7 linked regions of the Homo sapiens genome follow. The protein of the gene in region 2 purifies or fractionates together with the protein of the main gene of each other region. This does not show direct contact. Each region holds a gene or a part of one and is shown on either strand. Other genes may lie near its edges. The genes, in order: CNTNAP3, ANTXR1, DMXL2, PCYOX1, LRP11, DNAJC12 and POTEF.

Evidence for each region.
Region 1: the proteins of ANTXR1 (region 2) and CNTNAP3 purify together in Homo sapiens (affinity purification with mass spectrometry; 2 studies listed by BioGRID and IntAct, with this or other methods). This does not show direct contact.
Region 3: the proteins of ANTXR1 (region 2) and DMXL2 purify together in Homo sapiens (affinity purification with mass spectrometry; 3 studies listed by BioGRID and IntAct, with this or other methods). This does not show direct contact.
Region 4: the proteins of ANTXR1 (region 2) and PCYOX1 purify together in Homo sapiens (affinity purification with mass spectrometry; 3 studies listed by BioGRID and IntAct, with this or other methods). This does not show direct contact.
Region 5: the proteins of ANTXR1 (region 2) and LRP11 purify together in Homo sapiens (affinity purification with mass spectrometry; 2 studies listed by BioGRID and IntAct, with this or other methods). This does not show direct contact.
Region 6: the proteins of ANTXR1 (region 2) and DNAJC12 purify together in Homo sapiens (affinity purification with mass spectrometry; 3 studies listed by BioGRID and IntAct, with this or other methods). This does not show direct contact.
Region 7: the proteins of ANTXR1 (region 2) and POTEF purify together in Homo sapiens (affinity purification with mass spectrometry; 3 studies listed by BioGRID and IntAct, with this or other methods). This does not show direct contact.

What each region holds. Positions count from the first base shown.
Region 1 is NC_000009.12:39,173,168-39,176,667, reverse strand, and holds part of CNTNAP3 (contactin-associated protein-like 3 isoform 1 precursor), read left to right. Parts: intron 1-575; coding exon 576-719; intron 720-3,500.
Region 2 is NC_000002.12:69,247,179-69,249,827, reverse strand, and holds the end of ANTXR1 (anthrax toxin receptor 1 isoform 1 precursor), read right to left. Parts: 3' UTR 501-2,649; downstream 1-500. UniProt on the Homo sapiens protein: Plays a role in cell attachment and migration. Interacts with extracellular matrix proteins and with the actin cytoskeleton and thereby plays an important role in normal extracellular matrix (ECM) homeostasis.
Region 3 is NC_000015.10:51,612,772-51,616,271, forward strand, and holds part of DMXL2 (dmX-like protein 2), read right to left. Parts: intron 1-3,500. UniProt on the Homo sapiens protein: May serve as a scaffold protein for MADD and RAB3GA on synaptic vesicles. Plays a role in the brain as a key controller of neuronal and endocrine homeostatic processes.
Region 4 is NC_000002.12:70,275,137-70,278,410, forward strand, and holds part of PCYOX1 (prenylcysteine oxidase 1 precursor), read left to right. Parts: coding exon 1-34; intron 35-377; coding exon 378-530; intron 531-1,597; coding exon 1,598-2,256; 3' UTR 2,257-3,274. UniProt on the Homo sapiens protein: Prenylcysteine oxidase that cleaves the thioether bond of prenyl-L-cysteines, such as farnesylcysteine and geranylgeranylcysteine. Only active against free prenylcysteines and not prenylcysteine residues within prenylated proteins or peptides.
Region 5 is NC_000006.12:149,836,860-149,840,359, reverse strand, and holds part of LRP11 (low-density lipoprotein receptor-related protein 11 isoform 1 precursor), read left to right. Parts: intron 1-2,896; coding exon 2,897-3,022; intron 3,023-3,500.
Region 6 is NC_000010.11:67,828,189-67,831,688, forward strand, and holds part of DNAJC12 (dnaJ homolog subfamily C member 12), read right to left. Parts: intron 1-3,500. UniProt on the Homo sapiens protein: Probable co-chaperone that participates in the proper folding of biopterin-dependent aromatic amino acid hydroxylases, which include phenylalanine-4-hydroxylase (PAH), tyrosine 3-monooxygenase (TH) and peripheral and neuronal tryptophan hydroxylases (TPH1 and TPH2).
Region 7 is NC_000002.12:130,126,423-130,130,541, forward strand, and holds the start of POTEF (POTE ankyrin domain family member F), read right to left. Parts: upstream 2,801-4,119; 5' UTR 2,650-2,800; intron 1,443-2,649; 5' UTR 1,287-1,442; intron 1-1,286.

The sequences.
Region 1 (3,500 bases), on a different chromosome or scaffold from region 2:
TGGCTTTGGCATATAATATTAAACTGAAGATCCTAGTCCTATACCGGATTATTCAGTTTTATTACTTTAATTTAACCATGTAATAGCAAAAGATAATATCTAATGCAGAGGTTGGCAAACTATGGGCATCAGGCCAAGTTTGGACATTTTTTAATTAAAAAAATACAAAGCCTGTTTTTGTTCAAAAGAGAAGGTTTTATTGGAACATGTTCTCTTTCTTTATGTATTGTCCGTGGCCACATTGGTACTTCGTGTCAGAGTTGAGTGCTGCAAAAGAGATCATATGACCCACAAAGGGTAAATTTACTACATGGCTGAAAATTTCAATGTGGCAGAAAATGTGTGTTGACTTCTTCCTTTTAAGTTTGTTCAAAACTGTGTGGTGCCAGAAATAAAGGTATTAACAGCTGTCATTATGATAGAACACTTCATTTGGAATAAGCAAGCATGCAAATATAAGATAATGGGAATGGATTTGTGACAGTTAGTACTAGACCTATTAATTATAAATGCTTTAAACACGTACCATCAGAAAATCACTAAACAATGTTATTTATGTCATTTTTCTTTCTAAGATCAGCTTTGGGGGAATTCCGACACCCGGAAGATCGCGGGCATTCAGACGTAAAAGCTTTCATGGGTGTTTAGAAAATCTTTATTATAATGGAGTGGATGTTACCGAATTAGCCAAGAAACACAAACCACAGATCCTCATGATGGTAAGGAAGCCTAATGGGAAGGAAAGAAAAAAGGACATTTTATTTTTTGCATTTAAAAATTATTCATGTGAAGTCTCCATTTCATCTAATATTTTAAGAATCAGTTCTTACTTTAACAGCTGCCCATGTAATATAGTAATTTAGTTTTATTTATTTATTTATTTTTAAGACAGAGTCTCCCTCTTGTCTCCCAGGTTGGAGTGCAGCGGCGCAATCTCAGCTCACTGCAGCTTACGCCTCCCAGGTTCAAGCAATTCTCCTGCCTCAGCCTCCTGAGTAGCTGGGATTACAGGCGCCCGCCACCATGCCCAGCTAATTTTTGTACTTTTAGTAGAGACGGGGTTTCGCCATGTTGGCCAGGCTAGTCTCGAATTCCTGACCTCAGGTGATCTGCCTGCCTCGGCCTCCCAAAGTGCTGGGATTACAGGTGTGAGCCACTGGGCCTGGGCCAATTTTTTTTTTTTTTTTTTTGAGACGGAGTCTCACTCTGTCGCCCAGACTGGAGTGCAGTGAAGCTCTGCCTCCTGGGTTCACGCCATTCTCCCGCCTCAGCCTCCCGAGTACCTGGGACTACAGGTTCCCACCACCATGCCCGGCTAATTTTTTATATTTTTGGTAGAGACGGGGTTTCACCATGTTAGCCAGGATGGTCTCGATCTCCCAACCTCGTGATCTGCCCACCTCGGCCTCCCAAAGTGCTAGGACCACAGGCGCACTTTTTTTGTTTTTGTTTTTGTTTTTGTTTTGAGATGCAGTCTTGCTCTGTTGCCCAGGCTGGAGTGCAGCGGTACAGTCTTGGCTCACTGCAACCTCCGCCTCCTGGGTTCAAGCCATTCTCCTGCCTCAGCCTTCCGAGTAGCTGGGACTACAGGTGTGTGCCACCACACCCGGCTAATTTTTTTTAGTACAGACAGGGTTTTGCCACATTGGCCAGGCTGGTCTCAAACTCCTGACCTCAGACGATACACTTGCCTCGGCCTCCCAAAATGCTAGGATTACAGGCACGAGCCACCTTGACCCAGCCTAATATAGTAATTTTTATTATGCATAAAAAGTTATAAAGTAAATATGCCTCATGGGACATCGTTGTTTCATTTTTATATGAAATAAAATAACTTTCTATTTTTACATGGAAATCAGAATTCATATGTCTCACGTGTTTTTGGTGTTGTTATCCACAGGAGACCAATCATTTTGCAATGGCAATCCCTAATGATCTATTCCCTAATCAACTGGAAATACTTCCAAATCAGTTAATAAACTTCTTTCAATGTTTAAAGTTTGAAATATCCAAGTTGGGGTTAAAGGGAAAGCTCATGTTTAGTTGTCAGTGTATCTCAGCAGCACATCATGGGAATATTTATTTGTATTGTTGGGAACATGTTTTCTTTCCTGTTATGTGCTGGAGGAGTTGGCTCATGGGTTGCAGGACCAAAACCTGAAAATATCTCTGACTGTGTGTCACCAGACCACACAATGAATACATCACTTAGGTTAGCATGAGAAAAAGGGAAAAACAGCTGTGAAGCCCATGAACTTTCCAAGAAGGTAAAGGAGAAAAAAAAAAAAAAAGATGGGTTTGAAGTCTAAGTTTTACTATGAACAGCACCCTGCTGAGATCATAAAAATGAAAAATACCATCAAGATACATGAAAAAGGAAACACCAAAGGGAAGAGTGATAACAAGGCTCCACAGAGTGCAGTTTCCTTTGACAAGATGAAAAAGAAATGAAAAGAGGAAGGAGATAAATGGAACAGCCCTCTACCTAAAGTTTCTGTCCATGGAGAAACTGACATTTAAGTGCTGCTCAACAGGAAAAAGAAAAAAGACCTGGTTATTGAAGTTGGCTTTGTTGGAGATGCGTTACTCAGATACAGATACAAAGATGGGTTTGGCCAATGGGCATCCGTGTCAAGAAGCCTGACCTAACACGTTCTGAATATTAAGCTACCTTTTATCTGCCAGTCCTTGGTGTTCAGAAGAATCCCTCCTCCTCACCCTAACTTCTATGGGGCTATTTACAAAGACACTGTCATTGAAGTGAGGAAGAGTGAGTTGGGCCTTATGACACAAAGAGACAAGACTATTTGAGGACAACAGACACAGGTTTTCATATACATTCCATGTTATTCTGAATTACTGATGGGTTCACTGATGGAATTATTGAGTATAGCCAATAAGGAGAACCACAATTAAGCTGGTATCTCTGGGTTCTGGATATCATCCTCAAGAAAACTATTTACTAATTACATTGAATGAGGTTATTAAAATGTGTAAGTTTCACACAAAAACAAAAAGACAATTCATTCCAAATTGTGCATATGGATATATAATGTTAATTATGGGAATTCCATTTTAAGAATTACTACAATTCTATGTGTTCTGTATAAAAACAGGAAAATAGTTGTTCCAATATATAAAAGGAAAACATTTAAAAATGTATTTTGTTGGGAAAATCAGTTGCCAGAATTCATTCAGTCAACTAACAAGCACTCCTCTGTGGCAAGAAGCCCTGCCTCTCTGTTGTAGCAGGCAGCTACCCACCTAAATGATGAGGTCAAGAAATATACAGCTGATAAAAAGATAAAAAATATGTAATAGTCCAGTGATTACATGTGTACTATGGATCAGTGCCAATTACTTGTAAGCTTTTGGTATTTAGTTTGTTACAGCAAATGTTTTCTTTTTTAAATTTTCTTCTGCAAATGTTTTCTTGTCATGAAAACTGTTTCCCATTTGGCAGAATTACAAAAACAGTCAAGAAGAAATGTTCTGATTGA
Region 2 (2,649 bases):
TGAATTAAAACTGCTAGGAGGGATAAAGTGAGTTGTATCAGAAATGCAGAAGCAATACAAAGATTTTGAGATGTACATAGAAAGGTATTTATTGCAGCACTGTCCACAACACTGTCTGGTTCTTGGGTTGCTGCAAATCTCTGGACTCCTTGTAAAATCAATCCTAGTTGCCTTTCTGCTACGTTAGCCAAACACAATCCTAACTGATGCAGTATATTTTTCCTGTGTGTTCTGTTTTCACTTTTTACTTATTTTCTCTTAGCATGGATTACATTTTTAATTTGAAATTTGTTATGAGAAATAAAAAATATTTTGAATGTCTGACAGCTAAGGAAGAAATGACAGTAATCCAGACAGTAGAGAAATTAGTGGAAGGCATGAAATCATTTGAGAAATGTAATTTAATGTATAGCACAGCAACCACTGTATTATGATCAGGATATTGAGAACTTGAATACGTCGCACTTTATAACAAACAGACAAATAACCAGAAAAAAGAGTTGATTTAAGAAATTTATTATTTTTTTTAAAAAAGCAACTTCCAGGGTTGTCATTGTACAGGTTTTGCCCAGTCTCCTATAGCATGGTATTATGATCAGGATATTGAGGACTTGAATACGTTGCACTTTATAACAAACAGACAACCAGAAAAAAGAGTTGATTTAAGAAATTTATTATTTTTTTAAAAAAAGCAACTTCCAGGGTTGTCATTGTACAGGTTTTGCCCAGTCTCCTATAGCATGGTATAGTGATAACTGATTTTTTATAACAATGACTCAGAGGCATTGAAGATCCATAACTATCTTCTGAATTATCACAGAAAGAAGAAAGTTAGAAGAGTTTAATGTTAAGTGTATTAAAAATCATATTCTAATTCTTTTAATTTGGTTATCTGAGTATGATAATATAGGAGAGCTCAGATAACAAGAAAAGGCAATTGGTTAGAACACTCCATTCCCACAGGATGTGCATTAACAGACTTTTTACTGCATATGTCTTTATATAGTTTGCAAACTAATTCAACCATTTTACACAGCATTAATTTTTTTTTTAACTGGGTTGACATTGGGCTGAAACATTTGCTTATCATCTTATAATTATTTTTTCCTGTTCTTTAATGGATTTTACCCCCATCTGACATAGTGTTTGGACTTTAGTGTATGTGACACTTCAAGATCATCTCTGCCCATTCTGATGATAGTTACAATGAGGTTACCCATGGCCAGATATCGAAGACTATTAATTAATCCACCAGCTCTGTTCTCAACTTTGGTAAAAGAGAGATCTTGTGTCTCACTGGAGGGTGCACCAAGCTTCAGGCAAGAAACTGTGAGCTGGCTGTCAACAGAATATGGTTCTTATCAAGGTTCTTATTAATGCTGTGCAAACAAGGGTCTCGTCATTTCAGTAACTATTTGTACATTTATAAAAGCAATACAGTCATGGGAAAAACCAACAAGCACAGCTTGGTAGAATAACCTGCCATGAAATATCATCGGCTTTATAATAATTTACTACAACTGTTCTTTTTATTCACACTGGATAGGAAATGCTTCCATCTAACACATGGAATACGAATATATACAACACAAATTTGGCTTTAATAAAAAAAAAAACAGTTCAAAAGGACAATAACACGGGGGCTGAAAACAATAATTTTGTGCAGTTTCCTGATCATAATCACATGTCTCCTGCCTTTTACAGGGAATGACACAAGTATTGATGGATTTTGTAAACCAGTTAAAACATTTTCCTGCCTGTAATAGCCCACTATGAAGATATCACCTTGTTCATACAGTCTTATAGAAGTTTCTCCTTCTTAACTGTAATTCTAAATAACCGGGGATGACACACTGAGTCGGTTTAAGAACAAATCCTGCTGAGCCTTTTCAAAATCATCATACATTTGCAGTTCCCTATTCCATCAAAATGCTTTGCCGAAACAACATCTTGTAACTGCACTGGGCATATGACTGATGTGCTGAATGGTGCATTTGCACTGATGCTCACCATCTCGTTGCTCAGCAACGTCAGCATCTCGGCTTGAACTTCTGAATGGCCGCGGGAATCACGCGGCAGTGCCATGGGGTGGGTGGACTGTTTTAGACTGCCAGCAGTCAAAACAGTTGTGATGGGCTCAATGTCTCTACACTGTGAGCCTGGGGAACCCATTCTCCTATGGAATGGTTTTCAGGGGTCCAGCAATGTCACTGCAGGTGGCTGAGATATTCTGGCCCCTGCTTATGAGGAACTACATGAAAGAAGAAGCCTAGTGTTCTAAAAATTAGACAATGCGGCAGGGTTGGGGAGAGGCTGGGGGGTTGCTTTCATGAGTCTGGAAATTTCTGGTTTTAGCTCTCTGAGAAGGCTGGGAGACTCTGTTGTAGGCAGCTGTGGGAGAAGGCTAGGGTTGGAGGTACACCTGGAGATGTGTCAGTTTGGTGTTGGCACTGCAGATTCAGCGCCCGTGGTCCCTGACTAAGGCACTCTGCCTAGATCTATTTTCCCCTGACTGTACCTTTTATGCCCCCTGGCTTTCCCATTCTCCCTGGAAACTCCTGTTTGTTTTTGCTTTCTAAGATAGAGATAGCAAGTAGGGTTCATTTCTCTCATCTGACTGTTGGGTTCATCTGACTGTTGAGTGGCGGC
Region 3 (3,500 bases), on a different chromosome or scaffold from region 2:
ACAACCAGTCTGACCAATATTTATTAGGTGGGAATTTCCTCATCCTAATAAGCCTGGGAGCACTAAGGGAGACCAGGGCTTATTTCATCCCCCATCTATGACCGTAAAAGACAGCCAGCCCCAAAGCAGCCATTTTAGAGGCCTCCCCTTAGGGACGCCTTCTCTTTCTCAGGGATGTTCCTTGCTGAGAAAAAGAATTCAGCGATATTTCTCCTATTTGCTTTTGAAAGTAGAGAAATATGGCTCTGTTCCACCCAGCCCACAGGCAGCCAGACTTTAAGGTTATCTCCCTTGTTCCCTGAACATTGCTGTTATCCTGTTCTTTTTTCAAGGTGCCCAGATTTCATATTGTTTAAACAATTTGTGCAGTTAATGCAATCATCACAGGGTCCTGAGGAGACATTCATCCTCAGCTTACGAAGATGACGGGATTAAGAGATTAAAGTAAAGACAGGCATAGGAAATCATAAGAGTATTGACTGGGGAAGTGATAAATGTCCATGAAATCTTCACAATTTATGTTCAGAGACTGCAGTAAAGACAGGTGTAAGAAATTATGAAAGTATTAATTTGGGGAACTAATAAATGTCCATGAAATCTTCACAATTTATGTTCTTCTGCCATAGCTTCAGCCTGTCCCTCCGTTTAGGGTCCTTGACTTCCTGCAACATAACAACATACACCAAGTCCTCTTATACAACAGTACACTTCAATAGCTAGTTTATCCTGTATGCACAATGTCTAGGTGCCAAAATATTTTTTGAATAAAGGATAACCAGTAAGTTATACGAATTCTTCTGGGAACTGGAAACTTTCAGTTTTACTTTCTATATTTCAACACTGTTGGAATTATAACTTTTTTACAATGCAGATATTATATTAATTTTTTAAACCAAAAAAATCTGAATTCTTTGGGGTTTTTATTTGCTTTTTGCTTCTAATGGCCAAACTGTGCTTGTAATTATGTCTATATAAAATTTGTCCAGCATAAAATTATCACAGTCATGTTTGAATTTTCCATTTGTCCACATATTAGCATATTCTTAAAATTTCTTTAACAGAATCTTGCTTCTATCCAAGAGTACTCCTTTGGTTGAGCTGAGATTACCACCAAGTAGGGTGGCCACCTCAATCATGTCTTTGCTAGGCTCCTCAATTTTCAATTCCAGGACCAGCTCAGCTGATTGTTAACATGTGTTGTGGACTATATTGTGTAACCCCAAAATTCATAGCTTGAAACTCTAACTACCAACGTGACTGTGTTTGGAGGTAAGGCCTTTCAAGAGGTAATATAAGGTTAAATGAGATCTTAAGGGTGGGGCCCTATAAGACTAGCGTCCCTAAGAAGAGAAAAAGACACCGCAAGTGCATGTACACAAAGGAAAAGCCATATGAGGAAATAACAAGAAGGGGGCAATGTACAAGACAAGGAGAAAGTCCTCCAGATAAACCAAATCTGCTGACACATAGATCTTGGACTTCCAAACTCCAGAACTGTGAGGAAAAAAAATCTGTTGTTTAAGCTACCCAGTCTGTATTATTTTGTTATGGCAGCCCCAGCAAATTAATACAACATATTAAACTCCTAAAGTACAGAATCTCTACACTCCAGGTATTTGTCAGGCTAATCTCTAATTCATTATATACTTAAGTCTTTCAAAAGCACCACTGAGGAAAATTTGAGAACCACCTGTCAATTCCTCCTGATACATTAATATATATCCTTGGAGTAAACCAGGGCAGCACAGCTTTACACCTATATTATATCAAAGCTCTCTGCCTTCATCGTATAAAATTGATTTTTCTAAATATGACTTAATGCCACTGACCTATACCAAGAAGTATTATAAAAAAATAGCCTTATGAAAAGATCACTGTTTTTACTATGTGTGTATTACACTAAGTATCCTTTCCATTTACTAATTTATTGAGTACTTTTTTGTACCACCTTCTGTTTTAGGTGCTAAAGAAATAGCAATAGAGGGCATTGCAGGCACTCAGGTTTTTATTCTGAGTGGAAAAAAAAGCCACGTGAAAGTCTGGAATAAGGGGCTAACAAGATTTTATTTGTATTTTAACAGGAGCATTCTAGCTACTATGTTGAAAATAAACTGAAGGAGGATAGGCTAGAGTCAGAAAAGGCAGGAAGACCATTTAAGATTCAACTGCCATTATCCAGGGGAAAAAAATGATGCTGTCTTGCACCAAGGTGGCAGCAGTAGAGATAAGAAGTAATCAGATTCTGGACGCATTTTGAAGGTATAACCATTAGAATTTGCTAACATTAGATACGGGACATAAATGGAAGAGAAAAGGTAGATTACAAGGAAAGTAAAGAAAAGTGGAGTTGCTATTTATTGATTTAGGGAAGACTGGAAGAGGAAAATGTTATGAGGTCTTTGTGATAGCTATTAGACCTTCAAGGAGGAGATGTCAAAGAAACAGCTGAGTATACAAATCTGGAATCAGGCTGAGAAGAAGCAATTAAGCATGGTAGGAGAAAACTAAGAAGGCTAAATGAAGACAGTGTTTCAATAGAGCAGAAAAAGCATTTTTATGAGAGAAGGGAGAAACTGCTAGAATCATGCACTTGAGTAGGAAAGAGAGATGCAAACCGTAAGGTACAAATCAGGGTTTGTCACAACTTCAGTACTACTGACATTTTGGGCTTGGTAACTCTTCATTGTGGAGGACTATCCCGTGCACTGTAGGACGTTTTATCTAAATCTCTGGCCTCTCCTCACTAGTTGGCAGTACCAATTCCCCACCTCCAGTCACAGCAATCAAAAATGTCTCCAGACACTGCCAAATGTCTCCTGGTGGACAAAATCACACCCAATTTAGAACCTAAATGGAGGAAGTGGCCTTTGCTGAAAACATTGGTTATTCATCCACATAAAAGGAATGATGGGAGTTATTATGGGAAAGGTACATGATGATAATATGATTACCTCCTGCTGATTAGATCCTCTTAAGTGTGGATGCAGTCAAGGCCAGAGATGATATGAAGAAGTTGCTAGCACAAAACCAAAATCATTACTCCTAAGAAAATGTATGGAATTTTGTTTTTGAACTACAGCTAACGGATGAGCTACATATATCTGTGAAATGAGTCTAAGCCAGAATGTTTATGAGTTTTTTGTGTCCATCTATGCTTACTTGCAAAACACACTTACGACTTTTTGAGTTTCTCCTTAGATCACAAGAAGAAAACACTACTGATTTAGTACGAACCAATGGGTTTCTCCTAAAATCACAGGAAGAAAACAACAATTATTTAGTATGAATTAAATTAAATGTTATTACTCCCAAGGCTCAGTTTTTAGAAGACAGTGGACCTAAAGGAACATCTCTCCAATGATAATCCATCTAAGAGGGTATTATTTATTCCCCTAAAATCACTCCCACCAAATTACCATGTATATTATTTAGAGGGGCCTAACTCTGTTTTCTGTATCTGAAAGAGATAAATGATAACCATTACATTTTTTAGGTGTTCA
Region 4 (3,274 bases), 1.0 Mb from region 2:
TATGGCCAAAGCACGGACATCAATGCCTTTGTGGGTAAGCCAGGGCTTGAAACAGTGGTGGACATTAGTTCACAGAGGGGCTTACCTGATGCTATGGTGGTTCCTGACTTTAGGCTGTGGATTGGAGGCTACTTTTCTCTGTGAACCTCAGACATTGTTAGCAAAATTGTGCGTATGTAGATGTGCATTTTTAGGGGGAGAGGGTCTTTAGCTTTCATTAGTTCAGTAATTCTTAACTGGGGGAGATTTTGCTCCCAGGGGCCATTTAGCAATGTCTAGAGACATTTGGAGTAGAACATGTAATTGGGAAGGGAGAGTGGGTAGAGAGCCTCTTACAAAAAGTCAGAATTAAAACACATTTTTCCTCCTATTGACAGGGGCGGTGTCACTGTCCTGTTCTGATTCTGGCCTTTGGGCAGTAGAAGGTGGCAATAAACTTGTTTGCTCAGGGCTTCTGCAGGCATCCAAAAGCAATCTTATATCTGGCTCAGTAATGTACATCGAGGAGAAAACAAAGACCAAGTACACAGGTAAGCTTGAATTTCTTATTGTTCCTGATATCCCCTGCAGAAAATGATTGCTCAGGGAGAAACACTTCTCTTCTGTCATCTCTTACTCAGTTCTAAAATGATGAAACTTGAAATTGTATATATTGTACCATATAGAAATATTCCCCAATGGGCCAGGCACGGTGGCTCATGCCTGTAATCCCTGTACTTTGGGAGGCCAAGGAGGGTGGATCACCTGAGGTCAGGAGATCAAGACTAGCCTGGCCAACATAGTTAAACCCTGTCTCTACTAAAAATACAAAAAATTAGCCGGGCGTGGTGGCAGGTGCCTGTAATCCCAGCTACTCGGGAGGCTGAGGCAGGAGAATCACATGAACCCAGGGGGCAGAGGTTGCAGTGAGCCAAGATCACACCACTGCACTCTAGCCTGGGTGACGGAGTGAGACTCCATCTAAAAAAAAAAAAAAAAAAAAAAAATTCCCCAGTGTAGTTAAGTGCTGTGGCATCACTCCTTGGATTTGAAAAATAATCTTTTTTTTTTTTGAGATGGAGTCTCGCTCTTTTGCCCAGGCCGGACTGTAGTGGCCTATCTCGGCTCACTGCAAGCTCCGCCTCCCGGGTTCACGCCATTCTCCTGCCTCAGCGTCCCGAGTAGCTGGGACTATAGGCGCCTGCCTCAGCGTCCCGAGTAGCTGGGACTATAGGCGCCTGCCACCGCGCTCGGCTAATTTTTTGTATTTTTAGTAGAGACGGGGTTTCACCATGTTAGCCAGGATGGTCTCGATCTCCTGACCTCGTGATCCACCCACCTCGGCCTCCCAAAGTGCTGAGATTACAGGTGTGAGCCACCATGCCCGGCCGAAAGATAATCTTACCTTCAAAAGTAAAAATTCTGTATTTTGTACTTACTGACATTCTGAATAAGAAATTGGCCTCAATGTAATAAAAATGCAAGGGACAACTATCTTAAGGGATATAACTTCTTCAATTCTTTAGAATTATAGAGAAATTATGAAGAAGGTATACAATTATTTTTAGAAGGTATGTTAGAAACACTAAACAAATATATGCCTCCTTATTTCCTCTAGGAAATCCAACAAAGATGTATGAAGTGGTCTACCAAATTGGAACTGAGACTCGTTCAGACTTCTATGACATCGTCTTGGTGGCCACTCCGTTGAATCGAAAAATGTCGAATATTACTTTTCTCAACTTTGATCCTCCAATTGAGGAATTCCATCAATATTATCAACATATAGTGACAACTTTAGTTAAGGGGGAATTGAATACATCTATCTTTAGCTCTAGACCCATAGATAAATTTGGCCTTAATACAGTTTTAACCACTGATAATTCAGATTTGTTCATTAACAGTATTGGGATTGTGCCCTCTGTGAGAGAAAAGGAAGATCCTGAGCCATCAACAGATGGAACATATGTTTGGAAGATCTTTTCCCAAGAAACTCTTACTAAAGCACAAATTTTAAAGCTCTTTCTGTCCTATGATTATGCTGTGAAGAAGCCATGGCTTGCATATCCTCACTATAAGCCCCCGGAGAAATGCCCCTCTATCATTCTCCATGATCGACTTTATTACCTCAATGGCATAGAGTGTGCAGCAAGTGCCATGGAGATGAGTGCCATTGCAGCCCACAACGCTGCACTCCTTGCCTATCACCGCTGGAACGGGCACACAGACATGATTGATCAGGATGGCTTATATGAGAAACTTAAAACTGAACTATGAAGTGACACACTCCTTTTTCCCCTCCTAGTTCCAAATGACTATCAGTGGCAAAAAAGAACAAAATCTGAGCAGAGATGATTTTGAACCAGATATTTTGCCATTATCATTGTTTAATAAAAGTAATCCCTGCTGGTCATAGGAAAACACACGGTTCTAATTAAGTGTGAAGGTATAGCTATTGCACTTATGCCATCTCCAAAATTTCTTAAGTATTCTTTCACTATCCATTAGGAGTTTTTCTTAAACTTGTCTGATAATAAGAATCACCTGGAGTTAGGAGGTGGTGGTTGCAGTGAGCCAATCTCACCATTGCACTTCAGCCTGAGCAACACGAGCAAAACTCCGTCTCAAAAGTAAATAAAAATAATCACCTGGAGTTTGTTAAACCATATGGATTCTCAAGCTCCTCTCTTGAAGATTCTGATTCAGTAGGTCTGGGAGTGGCGCGCTGGATTTTGATCAAAATTGTAGAGCATTTTAAGGTGAGTACCTGAGGGAGAACTTAAAGACATCTTAGTTGGGGAGTAGTCCTTTTGAATTTTACAGCTAGATATAATCTTCAGTCAGATAAAATTTATGGGAGCTGGTGTCTTATGCCTGACTCTTAGTAATTTCATACCGGTTTGAAGTACGTGTGCCCATGCCTAAAGCCTTGACTTTCAGAATGTTGTCTTTTGATTCTTCTGTCTTGATTTGATTAGGGGTGAAATTTAGAAGTCTTAGTAATGTAACTTGAAGATGTTAAACAAAAATCTCAAGTAAAATGAAAAGCAAATATGGGCTACTGAATTAAGAAACTGGCATTCTAGTATTAAATCCTCACTTCAGGAGCTTTTAAAAATACTGAGACCCCCCCATAACCAGAGATTCAGATTCAAAGACTGAGGATAGGACCTTAGCATTGTAGCTATTTAAAGTTTCTAATGTGCACCCAGGGTTGGGAATCACCAATGTGGGTGTGAAAATGCCTACAAAGGGTTTTAGTGCCTTAGAAGTCCTAAGAAGCCCAATCTGTATC
Region 5 (3,500 bases), on a different chromosome or scaffold from region 2:
GAAAATAAAAAGGAATTGGTGAAGTACTAACTGCTGTCTAGAATCACTTAGTGGTTATATTGGAATAACATGCTATGAATTAAAGTTAATAAAACACCACAGAGAGACATTGGAAAATAGAGGTAGAAGAGACAAGTGTTTCCCTCCCCTGCATTGTATGTATTGGTCTTGCAATGAATGACCCAGATGTTATGGTAACCAAGGGTGACACTAGCTGAGGTAGACAGATGAGCAGGTACCCTGCTTATATGATCATAACTTGGTTCAATTTTTAATAAGTTGACATTTTGAACATTTTTCATGCTTAGAAAAATGATCAAACAGCAAGCCAGCAAGCTCTTCCAACATGATCTAACTCAGCAGTCTCCAAACAGGATGCCCCTGAGTTGTTCAAGACATTTTTAGGGTGAGAAAGAAGACAGCAGAGTTTATATTTTTGCTGATTTTTAATTTTTTTCCTTAAAATTTGAGTATATTTTATAAGATACACCCCATGTTAGTACAGTAGTATGCACGTATTATTTATAAATAAACCGGACTAGCCGGATGTGGTGGGACACGCCTGTAATCCCAGCTACTCAGGAGGCTGAGACATGAGAGTCAGTTGAGCCTGGGAGCTGGAGGCTGCAGTGAGCTGAGATTGTGCCACCGCACTCCAGCCTGGGCGACACAGCGAGACTCCGTCTCAAATAAATAGATAAATAAATAAACTGGAGATGCCTGTTCAACAATATATTATTGATCAGGATGCATGATCAAAAAAGTTTGGAGGCTGCTAATCCAAAAATAGATAGAAAATTTACAAATATGGATCCATCTCCAAAATCACCAAAGAATAAATAAAACCTTGAGATATCTGGGATTTTCATGCCATGAATTTAAGAAACCTGACGAGGAACTGTATCCTGCTTGATATCCAGCGTGTCCCCCACCTCCGCTCCCTGCTTCTTCCCAGTGGCCGGAGCTGACTCTCCTTCAGGCCCATGTTCTCAGTCATAACTGCAGGCTCTTTGCTTCCTCTTCTTCCGCAGGAGCTTCTATCACCATTTATTTTCTTTAACTTCTCTTCCTCCTGGATCAATATATCTTCAAATTGCCTCACACCAAGATAGACTCCTTTTCCAACCTCTTGATTTAACCACGTTTCAATAAAAGATGTGTCCAAGGCCGGGCGCAGTGGCTTACACCTGTAATCTCAGCACTTTGGGAGGCTGAGGCAGGAGGATTGCTTGAGTCCAGTAGTTCAAGACCAGCCTGGGCAACATAGTGACACCCTGTATCTACAAAAAAAAAAAAAACAAAAAAAAACCAAGTGTATGTCCAAGATTTCACTTGGGTTTGTGAACTGTGCTCAGCCATTTGGTTTTGAAGGAATATCATATAATCTGCCACTTCCCCATGTTCCTGAGAGAATTGTCTAGTCCACTCTGTCCCTGTAAAACCGTGGAGCTCCTGTGACCTGCTTCTAGCCTTGTGCCTTAGTCCATGTTGCCAGTACCAGATAGTCACCCGGTTCTCCTCTAGCTAAGTCTAATAAAGTTGGCTTAATCAAGGGAGAGGGAAAATGCATTTCAGGAAAATATTTGTAGCTCCTATGAATTGCACTGCAAATTAAAAGCTCCTAAGAACTCCAGAAGGGAGAAATGTCGTTATTTCTTTCTTTTTTTTTTTTTTTGAGACAGAGTCTCCCTCTGTCGCCCAGGCTGGAGTGCAGTGTCACAATCTTGGCTCACTGCAACCTCTGCCTCCCAGACTCAAGTGATTCTCCTGTCTCAGCCTCCCGAGTACCTGGGACTACAGGTGCATGCCACCAAGCCCGGCTAATTTTTTGTATTTTTAGTAGAGACGGGGTTTCACCGTGTTAGCCAGGATGGTCTCGATCTCCTGACCTTGTGATCCACCCGCCTTAGCTTCCCAAAGTGCTGGGATTACAGGTGTGAGCCACCACGCCTGGCCAATGTCATTATTTCATGAAACTAAATTCATGCCAGCCCATAACTAAATTTTGTTTATTCTCTACAGTACCAGGGACGTTATGATAATCAACAAATAGGATTCAATAGTAAAAACTTAATCTCAGTGAAAAGTATTACTTAGGAGACAAGAATGTAAGACATAGCATATGTAAAATAGTACCTCTGGGCCAGGCACGGTGGCTAACACCTGTAATCCCAGCACTTTGGGAGGCCGAGGCAGGTGGATCAGTTGAGGTCAGGAGTTCGAGACCAGCCTGGCCAACAAGGTGAAATCCCATCTCTACCAAAAAACACAAAAATTAACCGGGTGTGGTGGTGCATGTCTGTAGTCCCAGCTACTCCAGAGGCTGAGGCAAGAGAATCTCTTGAACCCGGGAGGCGGAGGTTGCAGTGAGCCAAGATTGTGCCACTGCACTTCAGCCTGGGCGACAGAGTGAGACCTTGTCTTAAGTAAGTAAATAAATAAATAAATGGTATCTCTGTTAAAACATAGCCAACTGCCATCCAGGGGATGGGATGGTATTAGGTGCCCTCCTGCAGAGCAATCGACAGCCAGAAGAAGAGGTTCCAACAATGGTTTCTATGAATGAATGAATGAAGAGGGAGACAGCTGAGGCGGGGAATCAAGGGTGGAGAGAGACCTGGGCTGTTGCTTCTGTGTGCCACCTCCTGGCAAGGCAAGCATGGAGAACAGCCCTCAGACCAAGAGCCCCTGAGGAGTCTGAAGAATTAAGTCGGGAGGCTCAAAAAGAGCCCTCCAACCTCTCCAGAACCTGTTGCTGGAATTGTTAGGTTTGCCTCATTATTTGCATCTCTTCCCCGAAGTGCATTTTATCATCCCCACGGACTCCCCTTTGTCATCCCCATCTTGAGAGTCTGAACTTCTGCACTCGTGTGACTTGAGATTTGTTTACAAATAGGATGTTTGCACACTTGCTCACGCTACCACTTCTTCTGTGACGATGGCTGCTGCATTGACATCACGCTCGCCTGCGATGGAGTGCAGCAGTGTCCTGATGGGTCTGATGAAGACTTCTGCCAGAATCGTGAGTTGGCTATGTCACATTGCTAGGCAGTGGCTGGAAGGGATGGAGTTGGGAGGTCTGTGTTCTGAGAATGAAATGCAAACACAGTGTCCTTCCCCTGCTTGATTTTAGTTATAACTTTACATGTAAAAGCTATGCCTTAAATGAGAATTCAATATGTCTCTAGTCTAAGTCTCAAATGTCAAATTTTTAGTATTGCTTATGTTTTTAATTTTTTTCAATTTTCCAGGTTCTTTCTATCCTAAAAATGCTGCATGTCATGTGCTTTCTTAAAAACTGCAGTGATTTGATGCTTTGTTTTGATAATTTTTTAAAGAAAATTTGCGATACACCAGGGTGTGGCTAAGTCAGAGCTGTAAATCAGTCTTATAATATCATACACATAGAAACACCCTGTAAGAAAGAAGAAAAACTGAAGAAAATGTAATGAAGTATGGATTTGAGGAAGGACGAAGAGTCTCAAAACCTTAAGTTTACG
Region 6 (3,500 bases), on a different chromosome or scaffold from region 2:
AGAAATTAACATTCATGCTCTGCTGGCGAGGATGTAAATAGGTATAGACTTTCTTGAAAAAAATTGAGACATATATGTTTGTATGTGTGTGTATATATATGTGTGTGTATCTATCTCTCTATATATAGATATATGTGTGTATCTATCTCTCTATATGTAGATCAGCTCCATGTCATCCTTAGTCAATTCTCATAAGGAATGTCTTCACTTTTACAATCAAAGTCAGGCTGTATTAGATAGGCATATGTATAAAACCCAGACTAATAACTATTATTTTCTTTGTTAAACTTCTGAGAACACCTTCGAATAATAGGAAAAGATGACTTCCTGTTAGGAACTGTAATTAACTATGTGTTTCCTCTTCCTGGGTGCTGTCTTTAACCATCAGTCACCATAACCTGCTTATATAACAAATAAAACTGAGATCTAGACTTGTTTTTAAATTTTAAAGTGTTAAATATTCTATTTTCTCTCTCTCTCTCTCTCTATATATATATATATACACACATATATATGAAGAGCCTTTAATTTATTTCCTAGCCTTTGATTCAACAATTCCAATTCTAGGAATTTGTCTAAGGAGATAATCAGAGGTAAGAAAAGAATAGCTGTAAGAAGGTCCAAGAATAAAATATAAATTTTAAACAAAAACCTATGATAGAGCAAGAGCACCATCAACTCAGACAGACATCGCCACTTTAAATTCCAGTTCCCTTTCTAGTCTCATGCATTTCAAGGAAATCACTTCTGTTCGAACTACAAGCAGCCAGAAAGAGCAGACAGTAAAACACAAATAAGACAGCTCGGGCGCAGAGGGAGGTGGGGGGAAAGTCTCTGGAGCAACTGCCAAACTTCACCCTCACAAAATGGGCCCCAGTAAAACAGTGAGCCTTACTTAATAAGCACATTCCTTTCCCTTCAGGTGTACCAAGATAGGGAAGCAAAAAGCAGACTCGGGCGGGGTATGCCTACAGCTGCAGAAAGATGGATGGGAACAGACACACAACTCTCCCTCCCAGAAAAGCACAACAAAGAGACAGAGAAGCAGTCCAAGCCTCTGATAAACTCTCCCACCCTGAAGCCTTAGAAACTCTTAGTCTGTAGGAGAGTGTGTCTCTAACCTAACTCAGCCAGCCGCCCCTCTCAGGTTTATTCAAAATAAACCTGTCAGGCCGGGTGCGGTGGCTCACGCTTGTAATCCCAGCACTTGGGGAGGCCGAGGCGGGTGGATCACGAGGTCAAGAGATCGAGACCATCCTGGCTAAAACAGTGAAACCCTGTCTCTACTAAAAATACAAAAAAATTAGCCGGGCGTGGTGGCGGCCGCCTGTAGTTCCAGCTACTCCGGAGGCTGAGGAAGGAGAATGGCGTGAATCTGGGAGGCGGAGCTTGCAGTGAGCCGAGATTGCGCCACTGTACTCCAGCCTGGGCGACAGAGTGAGACTCCGTCTCAAAAAAATAAAAAATAAAAAATAAAAATAAATAAACAAATCTGTCCCTGTTGACTGTCAAGCCGCCCTTTGTGTTTCTCTCCTCTTTCTTTAATTCTTACAACCTATATGTCCAATAATAGGATGTTTGTTATAGTTGATTGTAATGTAACTGTAGGTTAGAATACTTTACTCATTTAAAAAATTATCTTGTCATAAAAGATTTTTAACAACCTGAGAAAATTTAAATATTTCTATGAGAAAAGGTAAGATATGTGCAATATATTATGTTATACTGCATATAATAATATGTAAGTATTATGTGCAATTTAAATCCATGTCTTATCTCAAAAGGGATTATGTAACTATATATGTATATAATAATGATAATTATTATCATTTTAAATTTATTGACCTGGGTGCAGTGGCTCACACCTGTAATCCCAGCACTTTGGGATGCTGAGGCGGGCAGATCACCTGAGGTCAGGAGTTCAAGAACAGCCTGGCCAATTGCCAAATGGCAAAACCCTGTCTCTACTAAAAATTAAAAAATTAGCCTGGCATGGCCTGTAGTCCCAGCTACTTGGGAGGCTGAGACACAAGAATCGCTTGAGCCTGGGAGGCGGAGGTTGCAGTGAGCTGAGATCGCGCCACTGCACTCCAGCCTGAGTGACAGAGCAAGACTCCGTCTCAAAAAATAAATAAATAGGCCGGGCGCTGTGGCTCACTCTTGTAATCCCAGCACTTTGGGAGGCTGAGGCGGGCGGATCACGAGGTCAGGAGATTGAGACCATCCTGGCTAACACAGTGAAACCCCGTCTCTACTAAAAATATAAAAAATTAGCTGGGCGTGGTGGCAGGCGCCTGTAATCACAGCTATTCAGGAGGCTGAGGCAGAAGAACGGCGTGAACCCGGGAGGCGGAGCTTGCAGTGAGCTGAGATCCCGCCACTGCACTCCAGCCTGGGCGACAGAGCAAGACTCCGTCTCAAAAAATAAATAAATAAATAAATAAATAAATAAATAAATAAATAAATAAATTTTTTGATACTTAATATGTGCCAGGCACTTTTCTAAGCACTTTACATAGAATGTTTCATTTAATTCCCACAACTGTATGAGGTTAATACTATCATTATTCTCATTTTGCAGATTAGGAAATCAAGACATAGAAAAATTAAGGAATTCTCCCAAGGTCACACAGCTAATAAGTAGCACATCTAGGAACTGAACCCATGCAGTCTGACTCCAAATACATACAAAAATACACATATAAATACATACACATAGGCCAGGTGTGGTGGCTCACGCCTGTAATCCCAGCACTTTGGGAGGCCAAGGTGGGCGGATCACGAGGTCAGGAATTGGAGACCAGGCTGACCAACATGGTGAAACCTCATCTCTACTAAAGATACAAAAAATTAGCCGGGTGTGGTAGCACGTGCCTGTAGTCCCAGCTACTTGGGAGGCTGAGACACAAGAATCGCTTAAGCCTGGGAGGCAGAGGTTGCAGTGAGCTGAGATCGCACCATTGCACTCCAGTCTGGGCCACAGGGTGAGAATCTGTCTCAAAAATACATACATACGTACATACATATACACATATGCATTTACTTATTTATATACATATACAGATATAGCATATATGCACAGATAATTAACATGTATAAGTCATACTCCAAAATGTTAAACATGTAGGTTAACATTTTTATTTGTGCTTTCTTTGTATTCCACATTTCCTTATTGAACATATATTAATTTTAGAACTTAAATTTTAAAACTTAGAAACTTATCTTTTCCATATTCTGCTAGCAAAATATTTTTGTCTAAGCAAGGAAATACTCCAGTGTGCCATGGAGACTAATCCAATTCCCACTTGGATGAATATTCTCCAAGATTTCCTAGCCATACAAATGCCCTGTCTCTCCCACAGTGCATTAAAATTATGGCCATCTAGTAAGGCCATTTCAAGCCCCATCTCTTTCTGAAGTCTATTCAGATATTCTTTCTTTAATTTCTGCTGCACTTATAGACAGTACAGAGCACAATACTTAATTGTTCTCAAATTGTT
Region 7 (4,119 bases), about 61 Mb from region 2:
TCCAAATATGTGAGAGAGATGAAATGGCTGTTTGCCACCAATATTTTTATGTGATGCTTCATTTTTTGATTCTCTGAATAACTACTTACAACGCATTAGCCCATTTATGCCAGAGGCTGCAATTTTTTGAATTTTTGCACGAGTGAAAAATCAAACCTTCTAATGACCTTGAGCAGTAGGATGTAATTAACTCCCTCATGCTTACCATTCCAATAATGGAACACTAGGCATAAGTGGTTTAACACAATCGTGAAAGCATAGCTATTCAAGTAACTAATTATACAACTGATTTTTTTCCTCATCCCTAAAACATAGTAAAGGACCAGTTATTTTAAAAATACAACACAGTGACAATTTTGGCTTGTTGTTTGTTAAGGCCATTGCTTGGCATAAAGAAAACAAAAAGAGGAGGAGAAACAAGAATAGAAACATGAAATAGAAGCAGCAGCAAAAGAAAATGAAGAGGAACAAGAAGATGAGAAGAATACACAGACTAGAATAAGCAAAAAGAACAGGTGCAGGAATTAGAAGGCCTATTATGACACCTTTTATCCCCTCCCCAATTCACAAAATTTGAAAAAGTCCAAGACCATCACAACAAAAAAGAAGGAAAAAATGGCCGGGAGTGGTGGCTCACGCCTATAATCCTAGCACTTTGGGAGGCCAAGGTGGGTGGATCATGAGGTCAGGTGATCTAGACCATCCTGGCTAACACTGTGAAACCCCATCTCTACTAAAAATACAAAAATAAAATTGGCTGGGCGTGGTGGCAGGCGCCTGTAGTCCCAGCTACTAGGGAGGCTGAGGCAGGAGGATGGTGTGAACCCAGGAAGCAGAGCTTGCAGTGAGCCGAGATCACACCACGGCACTCCAGCCTGGGCAAAAGAGCGAGACTCTGTCTCAAAAAAAAAAAAAAAAAAAAAAAAAAAGCCACACACACACACACACAGTCACCCCCTAAATTTTGTTAAGAATGAGACAATGCTGCCACTCATGCCTGGCTCAGAAGGAGGCCACCCTCCAGAGATTGCAAGAGAAGGGGGAGGACTCCTTTCCCTAAGTGCACCTCCACCACTGCCACCGAGGCCCATGGTACAGCACCAGCAGGTTCGTCCCCACCCCAGGTCGGACTGGGCCCTGCAGTGCTCCTACTCCCCCTTCCCAGTCCCCAGACTTTCTGCCACTACCACCACTAGCACCAATGCCAATACAATTGCTGTCGCCATCAATGCAGCAGCCCACCCTACAAGGTTCCTACCACCTTGCCCCCGCGGGCACCCTCCTACCACTCCTGTCGAGCTGCAGTCTCCGTGGCTGCCATCAGTCACACGAGGCGAGCTGCAGAGTCACGCCACATGCAGGCTCCAGCGTACCACAGGTGATTCCTTCTCCTCCTCCTCCAGCCTGGCTTGGAGCAGCTAGACGGGCAAAGCCAGAAAAGCCTAGAATGGGATGCAGGGAGTGGTAACGTTAGAGCCTCACCTTGTCATGCTGGCCACTGGGTGGCAGGGACCAGCTTCAGCTAAGGCACTCAGACCCACCCACCGAAGTCCAGCCTCTCTTTCTGGCAAAAGGTGGCCAGGAACTGGGGCGGGTGTGAGTGCCTATGCTGAAACCACCCCCATCCAGGTGCAACTGGCCAGAAATTGCTGGGCCCACCAGGGCTGCACTCCTTGGGGAGCAGGAGTAGGAGAAACTCAGACCCAGCCAGCCCTCCCCACTCAACTGCTGGTTCCCATTCCTGACACCTCCACCCACAGTGCCCTGTTCCCACAGTCCCCCGCGATGCCCACTAATCCCCACCCGGTAGTCCCAGGTGGTCTCCCCAACACAGAGCATGGGGTGTGGGCGGGAGGTGCAGGCCGGAGAACCGCAGTGGGTGTGGGGGCCCTGCCCTGCTCAAGATTGCACCAGGAGGAACTCTGGAGTCTGGAAAAGAGAAGAGTCACCCGAAGGAGCAAGGAGACCATGGCTGTTGCTGTCCCCACCACCTCTGCAGCCGACCAACACCACTGGCAGTATAGCCCCCATAGCAACCCTAACCTGACCCCTGCCGCCGGCAGTGTAGCCCCCGGACAGCACACCCACCACACCCTGTGCCAGTTGCAGGCAGTGTAACCCCAATACCCCCCCCAACCACCCCCTCCACAGGCAGTGTAGCACCCGATAGTGCCCACAACCTGACCCAGCCACAGGTGTTGCTGCACAAGACAATGCCTCAAAATCGCCGCCCCCACCCCACCACAGGTAGCGCAGCTCCTGATAGCGCACCCTGAGTAAGGGCAGTGCAGCACCCGACAACACTCCTAAACCACCCCCCGCTGCCAGCATTGTAGCTCCAAATAACCACCAAAACCACTCCCTGCCCCGGGCAGTGCAGCAGAAAATAGTGCCCCTAACCCCTCCCCCGCCACCGGCAGTACACGTTAGTGCACACAACCTGCCTCCCCCCCATCACCCCCGCCACCACGGGCAGTGTAGCCCCGGACAGCCAGCCAAAACCGCCCCCCTCCACCGCCAGCAATGCAACCTCGGAGAGTGCCCCCAACCAGCCCCCTGACACAGGCAGTGCAGCCTCGGGTAGTGAGCCCCAATAGGACACCCAACCCCTGCCCCCACAGGCGGGCAGTACATCCCCGGATAACTCACCTACACCAGGACATTTCTACCACTCTGGCCGAGCTGCAGTGTCCCACGTCACCACCAAACACAGCAAGGCGAGCCCCAGGGGCTCAGGCTCCAGCCTCCAGCATGCCGCTCCCTTCTACTCGTCTTCCTGCCTGGCAGGAGAAGCTCCCGCTACTGGTTGCCCTCCTACCACTGTCGACACCACCAACTGCAGTGAGCCAGTGTCCGAGGCTCCAGCCAGAAACAGGTAGCAGCCATGCCGGATACCAAACGCCCACACTTAAGAGCCTGAAATGACCTGACGCCACCTCCGCATGCTTTACCTACTGAGGTTACGCACATGTGGTTCCCAGACTACATGTTCTGATTGGATGAGAGAAAAACCTCTAGGCCTACTCTGATTGGACTTTATTTTCATGCTGTGATTGGTTGTCTTAAGACTGGCTCTCATCCAATCAGAACATGATAATAAAGTCCAATCCAAGTAACCCTGGAGGGTTTTTCTCATCCAATCAGAACATGCAGTCAGGAATCCTCCTGTATATAATCTCGGTATATGACTGCTGCTGAAGGGAAGTCAGGCTCTTCCACGTTCCCGTATTTTCCTGTGGAGCTGCTCAGTGCCCGGCTTAGAGGACCAGGAATGGGTAATCACCAGCCGTACGCTGGAGGCTGGAGCCGCTACACCGTGGCTCGCCTCGCTGCGACTGGTGGTAACCGCGACCGAGACGGCAGTGCGGCGGAAGCGGTAAGAGGAGGAAAAGAGTTTTGGGATAGATGGAGGGGGTAAAGAGGGTGGTTAGTGCCAAAGGGAAAAGAGGATAGTGAGCAGGAGAGCGCGTTGCAAAAAGGCGGTGGGGAAAAGATAGTGGGAAAAAAAGTTTTTGGGTAGATGGAGGGAGAAAAACGGGGTGGGGAGCGGGAGGGAGGGAAGGTTTTGCAGAAAGATGGTGGGTAAAATGTTTATGGGTAGATGGAGGAGGAAAAGAGGGTGGCAAGGGAGGAGGAAAGAGAGGGTGGTGGGGGGGAGAAACAGCGTTGAGCAGTAGGGAGAGAAGGTTTTGTGAAAAGACAGTGGGGAGAAAAGGTTTTGGGTAGATAGAGGGGGAAAAGAGGGTAACAGGTGGGGGAAGGGAAAAGGGTAGCCAGCGGGAGGAAGACAAGGTTTTGCAAAAAGATAGTGGGCAGGAAAGAAAGACGGTGGAGAAAGAAAAGACAGTGGGTAAAAAGTGTTTGGGTAGATGGTGGGGGGAAAGAGGGTAACGAGGAGGAGGAAAGAGGGTGACGAGAGGGAGCAGGGAAAGAGAGTTGGGAAAAAAATGGGAAAATAGTTTGGGGTAGATGGAAGGCAAAAAAGAGAGTGGCAAGCAGGATAGGGCAAAGAAGAGGACGAGTGGGAAGGGGGGAAGACTGTGAAAAGACAGTAGGGAATATTCTGGGGGGTGGATGGAGGGGGAAAAGGGGAGGTGAGCAGGAGTGGGGAGAAGGCTT